Linked DNA regions of Homo sapiens. The protein of the gene in region 2 interacts with the protein of the main gene of each other region in a biochemical or structural test. Each region holds a gene or a part of one and is shown on either strand. Other genes may lie near its edges. The genes, in order: PPP1R12C and TNKS2.

Region 1 (3,823 bases), on a different chromosome or scaffold from region 2:
TCACCCAAAGTGCACACTTCAGTGCTTTTTAGTCTATTCACGGGGTCGGGCATTTATGACCACATTGGTTGTAGAACATTTTCATCATCCCCCAACGAAACCCTGCAACCGCTTAGCCATCACCCCCAACCATGCACCCCCCCCTCCCCCCCACCCCACGAAGCCCTCTCTGCCTTCTGTCTGTGGATTTGCTGTTTTGTACACTTCACATAAAGGGAATCATACAGTATAGAATCATCAGCTTTTAACTTTTTGATAGATTTGTGTTCCTTCTCTCTGTCCCTCCCTTGCGATCTCTTCCCAGGTATAGACATAAACACATTTTTTCCTATCCTTTCTCCTCCTGTTTTTTTCCCTCCATCTCTCCCTTCCTTTCTTACCACCCCACCCCTGCCTTTCCATTCCTGAGCCTTTTTTTTTTTTTTGAAACAGAGTTTCACTTTTTGCCCAGGCTGGAGTGCAATGGCATGATTTCGGCTCACTGCAACCTCCACCTCCTGGGTTCAAGCGATTCTCCTGCCTCAGCTTCTGGGTAGCTGAGATTACAGGCGTGAGCCAGCATGCCCAGCTAATTTTGCATTTTTAATAGAGATGGGGTTTCACCATGTTGACCAGGCTGGTCTCCAACTCCTGACCTCAGGCGATCTGCTGGCCTCGGCCTCGCAAAGTGTTGGGATTACAGGCGTGAGCCCGGCCATTCTGAGACTGTGTTGCAGGCATTGTACATCTTCGCCTGATGCACAGCAGGTATCTCCTGCCACAAGGAAAACCTCCTGCAGAACCACAGTAGGGATGCAACACGCTACCCCCTGTGTTGACCTTGATGCTACACTCTCACCCACCGCACCAACCTTGATGCTACACTCTCACCCACCGCACCAACCTTGATGCTACACTCTCACCCACCGCACCAACCTTGATGCTACACTCTCACCCACCGCACCAACCTTGATGCTACACTCTCACCCACCGCACCAACCTTGATGCTACACTCTCACCCACTGCACCAACCTTGATGCTACACTGTTGCCTGCGTTTCTCCTTGACATTCTTTGTAGCCTCTCCCGCTCTGGTTCAGGGCCCAGCTAGGGATCCAGATCTGGGTGATTTAGGCTCCCTCTGTCTGGATCAGTCCTCCTTTTCCCTTGGACCCCAGGGAGGCCGGGAATGGCCTCCAGGGGGTCTGTGAACTTTCTGACGTTGTATTTTCCTGCAGAAATTGCTCATAACTTGCATCAGCTTCTCAGAGGGGGCCATGCTTCTTCCCTCCCGTGGGGTGAGGAGAAGGCTGGGAGGGATACATTGGTGGGGGATATTGGCTTGTAGGATCAGCCAGGAACGAAGACCACTGGGGCCACTGGAAAGACCCTCAGCCGTGCTGCTCGGGGTGGGACTCTGCGGCCCCAAATCACAAGGCGACTGCCTGTGACACCCTGTGACACCCGGCTCCACACAGGAGCCTCAGAGGGGCTGCAGTGCGCAGGACCTGGATCACAGGCTGCACCCCAGCTCTAAGGAGGGCGGGTCTTTTGCACCCCCTGCAGGACACGCCCACATGATGCAGAATTCCCCGAGGTGCTGGCATCCAGACTGGCTCTGGCCATAGTGTGGCCCTGGCAGCCACTCACAGGCAGGGCTGGGAGAGAAGACAGACCGGCCTCAGGCACGACCATCCCCTTCGCTTTCCCTGGCTTACTTGCTGTTTTCCTCTCTCTGGGTCTGGGGTTCAGTGAGAGCACGTGATCTGCTCAGCCAGTCACCTCGTGGCCTGGAGCCACCGCTCCCTCCAACACCGCAAAGTCCTCTGGCCCAGTCGACTCAGGGGCTGAATCGGGCATGACTCTTTGCAAGAACCAAAACCCGTTCCTCCTGGCTCAGGCCGGAAAAGGCCATTTGAGGCCTGGCACAGTGGCTCAGACCTGTAAGCCCAGCACTTTGGGAGGCCAAGATGGGAGGATCTCTTGAGCCCAGGAGTTTGAGACCAGCCTGGGAAACCTAGTGAGAACCCATCTCTATAAAACAAAACACATTAGCCAGGCGTGGGAATGCACGTACGCTCCCAGCTACTCAGTAGGCTGAGGTGAGAAGATTGCTTGAGCCTGGGAGGTGGAAGATGCAGTGAACCACGGTCACTCCAGCCTGGGGGCAAGACCCTGTCTCAACCAAATAAACCAAAACAAAAAAGGCAATTTATATACCCGTGTTCATAGCATCGTTCACAATAGCCCAGAGGTAGGAGCAACCTAGTGCCCATCATCGAATGAATGGAAAATCAACATGTGGCCCATCCATGCGGTGGGACATGATTCAGTCTTCATCCCAGCACTTAGGGAGGCCGAGGCGGGCGGATCACCTGAGGTCGGGAGTTTGAGGCCAACCTGACCAACATGGAGAAACTCTGTCTCTACTAAAAATACAAAATTAGCCAGGGGTGGTGGCACATCCCTGTAACCTCAGCTGCTCAGGAGGCTGAGGCGGGAGAATCACTCGAACCTGGGAGGTGGAGGTTGTGGTGAGCCAAGATCGTGCCACTGCACTCTAGCCTGAGCAACAAGAGGAAACTGTGTCTCAAAACAAAAAACAAAACAAGACAAAACAAAAAACACACAATGTAGATGTATCTTGAGGACATTATGCTAAGTGAAAAGTGAAAATAAGCCAGTCACAGAAGGACAATTACTGTCTGATTCCACGTCTGTGAGGTACCCAGAATAGTCAAAATAATGGAGACAGACAGTAGAATGGCTGTAGTCAGGGACTGGGAGGAGTGGGGAGAATAGGAAGTAGTTTAGTGGGTACACATTTTTTAAAATGATTTTTATATTTTTTGTGGAGACGGGGTTTCACCACGTTGCCCAAGCTAGTCTGGAACTCTTGAGCTCAAGTGATCCACCCACCTTGGCCTCCTAAAGTGCTGGGATTGCAGGTGTGAGCCATTGTCCCTGACCTAGGGTACACGATTTTAATTTTGCAAGATGAAAAAATTCTGGAGATTGGTTGCACAACAACCAATTGTGACTACTTAATGCCACTGAATTGGGGTTAAAATGGTAAATTTTAGGCTGGGCGCGGTGGCTCAGGCCTGTAATCCAGCACTTTGGGAGGCCGAGGTGGGCAGATCACCTGAGGTCAGGAGTTTGAGACCAGCCTGGCCAACATGGTGAAACCCCGTCTCTGCTGAAAATATAAAAGTTAGCCGGGCATAGCGATGTACACCTATAGTCCCAGCTACTCGGGAGGCTGAGGCAGGAGAATTGCTTGAACCCAGGAGATGGAGGTTGCAGTGAGCCGAGATCTCACCACTGCACTCCAGCCTGGGCAACAGAGCAAGACTCAGCATCTCAAAAAAAAAAAAAAAAGATGGTAAATTTTATACTGTGTGTATTTTACCACATTTTTTTCACTCTGAGATGGAGTTTCTTTATTTTTATTTTTATTTTTTATTTTTTTAATTTATACTTTAAGTTCTATGGTACATGTGTACAACATGCAGGTTTGTTACATATGTATACATGTGCCATGTTGGTGTGCTGCACCCATTAACTCGTCATTTACATTAGGTATATCTCCTAATGCTGTCCCTCCCCCCACCCCACGACAGGCCCCAGTGTGTGATGTTCCCCTTCCTGTGTCCAAGTGTTCTCATTGTTCATTTCCCACCTATGAGTGACAACATGCAGTGTTTGGTTTTCTGTCCTTGCGATAGTTTGCTGAGTGATGGTTTCCAGCTTCATCCATGTCCCTACAAAGGACATGAATTCATCCTTTTTTATGGCTGCATAGTATTCCATGGTGTATATGTGCCACACTTTCTTAATCCAGT
Region 2 (3,823 bases):
AGTGAACATTTGGAATTCATTCCACCCATATGTTAGTTGACCAGATACAATTAAGTTACAATGAAGCAAAATGCTGTAGAGAACATACAGGGGCTTTAGAGTCAGACAGACTGGGCCTAGAATTCCAGCTGCACGATTTAAGTTGTACAATCTTATGAACTGCCTAACCTCTAAACCTTAGTTACCTCATCTATAGATAGAGGTAAAATATATCTGGTTAGTATGAGAATTAAATGGGGTAATTTACTTAAAGTCTTTGGCATGGTATCAGGTACATAAAAAGCACTCAATAAATGGTACTATTATTATAAACAAATGTCATTTACAAATTGTGAGTGCAATGGGAATGCATAGACTGGGGGAAGAGAAAGGTGATGACTGGAATAGTCAGAACAAATGACTATGAAACAAGTACTAATTTATTCCTTGCTGAACATTAGTTGAACGTTGTGAAAGAAGAGTACATATTACAAATTAAACAAATTAATGTACCAATAAATGTGAGGACTTTTTTCCATTCTAGCAGATTTTTTTTAATTTTTATTTATTATTATTTTTTTGAGATGGAAGTCTCACTCTGTCACCCAGACTGTAGTGCAGTGGCACAATCTGGGCTCACTGCAACCTCCGCCTCCCAGGTTCAAATGATTCTGCTGCCTCAGCCTCCCGAGTAGCTGGAATTACAGGCATGCGCCACCACACCCAGCTAATAATTTTTGTATTTTCAGTAGAAATGGGGTTTCACCATGTTGGCCAGGCTGACCTCAAGTGATCGACCCACCTCGGCCTCCCAAAGTGCTGGGATTACAGGCATAAGCCACTGCACCTGGCCCCATTCTAGCAGATTTGATTAAAATGATTATCTTTTCTACCCACCTCCTCTCCAAAAAACTTTCAGTTTTAAGGAACAAATACATTGCTGAATATTTTCCAGGAAATACAAACAATTCAGTTTGCTAAAGTTCTGTGTAGGTTGAATTACTTCTTTCAGAGTAACTACAATAGGACTAAAATCTCTTACCTTTTAAAATTGATATTTCTGTAATTCGTTGTGCTTCTCAGTCACAGTATCAGAATTAGGGTTTTGTTCATGCTTTGCCATATTTAAATTATATTTTGACAATATGTGTTTTGGAAGAGATGTTCTCAGTTATGTCTTATATTTTAATAACAGTTTAGCTGGATACAGGTTGAATATCCCTTATCGGAAATGCTTAGAACCAGATGTGTTTTCGGCTTTTGGATATTTTTTTCAGATTTTGAAATATTATACTCAAGCATTATACTTACTGTTGAGCATCCCCGATCCCCAAATCTGAAATCCAAAATGCTCCAATAAACATTTCCTTTGAGCTTCACGTCAACATTTTAAAATTTTCAGATTTGGGATGTTTGACCTGTATTAACCTGTTTGCTTCACTTTTTAAAATGAATAATCCTCCATTGTGATAGTACTGGCACAAATTGCTGGGTTTTCTCATATTTTTAAATATATTTTATTAGGTATAATAGCATTTTAAAACTTGCTTATGGCAGATGTTGTCTCTGACACGTACCCTAGGCGGATGATGTCAGCGCTCTTCTGACAGCAGCCATGCCCCCATCTGCTCTGCCCTCTTGTTACAAGCCTCAAGTGCTCAATGGTGTGAGAAGCCCAGGAGCCACTGCAGATGCTCTCTCTTCAGGTCCATCTAGCCCATCAAGCCTTTCTGCAGCCAGCAGTCTTGACAACTTATCTGGGAGTTTTTCAGAACTGTCTTCAGTAGTTAGTTCAAGTGGAACAGAGGGTGCTTCCAGTTTGGAGAAAAAGGAGGGTGAGACGTTCTACAAAAATAACTTTCTAACTGGTATTGTAGCCCCGTATTTGTCATTTGGGATGCTAAAAAGTCATTTTTAACCTTAAATACAAGGTATTAGTATAAAATTAGTTAACATAGCCTTAAAAAGGTTTAACCTTGTATTACTTTCTTCCTTCCAAGTTGACAGTTGAAGAGTCTTGTGCTACTAACCTACTATTTATTTATTTATTTTTGAGATGGAGTTCTGCTTTTGTCGCCCAGACTGGAGTGCAGTGGCGCGATCTCGGCTCACTGCAACCTCTGCCTCAAGGGTTTAAGCAATGCTCCTGCCTCAGCCTCCCGAGTAGCTGAAATTGCAGGCACCCACCACCATGCCCGGCTAATTTTTGTAGTTTTAGTAGAGATGGGATTTCACCATTTTGGCCAGACTGGTCTTGAACTCCTGACCTCAGGTGATCCACCCGCCTCGGCCTCCCAAAGTGCTGGGATTATAGGCGTGAGCCACCGCCCCCCGCCCTTAATCTGCTCTTTAGATGTAAACCTTTTCTGTTAAAATTCATCCCACCTTATGCAACAGTGTGGAGCTTGTTTTCATAAACTTTTTTGTGAAGTAGCTTACATCCTGAAAGATAGGAAAACTGGTTTTAAAAATATAGATGCAATTAAAAACAAAGTTTAAAATAAAAATGAGAGTACTGAGACTGCCCCATTGATTAGCTTTTTTCTAATGTTGAAATTTTGTAGCTTTCTCTTGTTCAGTATTATATCCTAAGTGGCTATTAATATTATTTTCTTCATATATAGTAACATTACAAGACTTTACTGTTATAGTGATGAAATACATTATTCTGATGTGAAATTCCATTTGTTTTGGATTTTTTTATTTCCCAGTTCCAGGAGTAGATTTTAGCATAACTCAATTCGTAAGGAATCTTGGACTTGAGCACCTAATGGATATATTTGAGAGAGAACAGGTGAGTAGATAAATCATATTGTTTGGATTAGTGTTTTATGGAAACTCAAGGAAAATTTGGAACATACTTGAAATGAGCTGAACCATGTAAGCTATTGGGGGAGAATGTTTTTTAAGAAATGACATCAGTCAGCCTTCTAATTTGGCTTGACCTTGAAACTTCCATTTAGTTTATTCGCACACAGTTGACTCGAGTAGTAATGGTAAAGTAGCTTTCTTGAATGGAAAGTTTAGCTTATTCAGTTCTTGAAGTAAGTTATCCTTGAGCACTGTCTATTCAGTTCTCTCTCAAGCCTGACACTTTTCTAGCTGCTATGGGAAGGTATATGAATATGCCAGCCATATCTGGGCTTTTCTAAGCAGTCTCAGTTTAAAGTACTCTGTCAGAATACATTTACTGATTTTTGTTGTTGTTCAGAAAATAATGTTACTGTAGATTTGCACTCTAAGGGACTTTCATTGTAGTTATGGAATTAGAATAAGAACATATGGCCGGGTGCAGTGGCTCACGCCTGTAATCCCAGCACTTTGGGAGGCCGAGGTGGGTGGATCACTTGAGGTCAGGAGTTCAAGACCAGCCTGGCCAAGATGGTGAAACCCCCGTCTCTACTAAAAATACAAAGAAATTAGCCAGGCATGGTGGCAGGCACCTATAATCCCACCTACTCGGGAGGCTGAGGCAAAGAATTGCTTGAACCCGGGAAGCAGAGGTTGCAGTGAGCCAAGATCACACCACTGCACTCCAGCCTCGGCAACAGAGCAAGACTCGGTCTCAAAAAAAAAAAAAAAAAGAACATATGAAAATTCAAGTTTTAGCATAGATTTTAGAAATTTGTAGAAGGGAGCCAGGCACGGTGGCTCATGCCTGTAATCCCAGCACTTTGGGAGGCTGAGGCGGGTGGATCACCTGAGGTCAGGAGTTCAAGACCAGCCTGGCCAATATAGTGAAACTCTTCCCTACTAAAAATACAAAAAATTAGCTGGGCGTGGTGGCGGGCACCTGTAATCCCAGCTACTCAGGAGGCTGAGGCAGGAGAATCGCTTGAACCCG

The links.
Region 1: the proteins of TNKS2 (region 2) and PPP1R12C interact in a biophysical measurement, tested with the Homo sapiens proteins (one study listed by IntAct).

What each region holds. Positions count from the first base shown.
Region 1 is NC_000019.10:55,107,472-55,111,294, reverse strand, and holds part of PPP1R12C (protein phosphatase 1 regulatory subunit 12C), read left to right. Parts: intron 1-3,823. UniProt on the Homo sapiens protein: Regulates myosin phosphatase activity.
Region 2 is NC_000010.11:91,846,822-91,850,644, forward strand, and holds part of TNKS2 (poly [ADP-ribose] polymerase tankyrase-2), read left to right. Parts: intron 1-1,561; coding exon 1,562-1,814; intron 1,815-2,690; coding exon 2,691-2,773; intron 2,774-3,823. UniProt on the Homo sapiens protein: Poly-ADP-ribosyltransferase involved in various processes such as Wnt signaling pathway, telomere length and vesicle trafficking.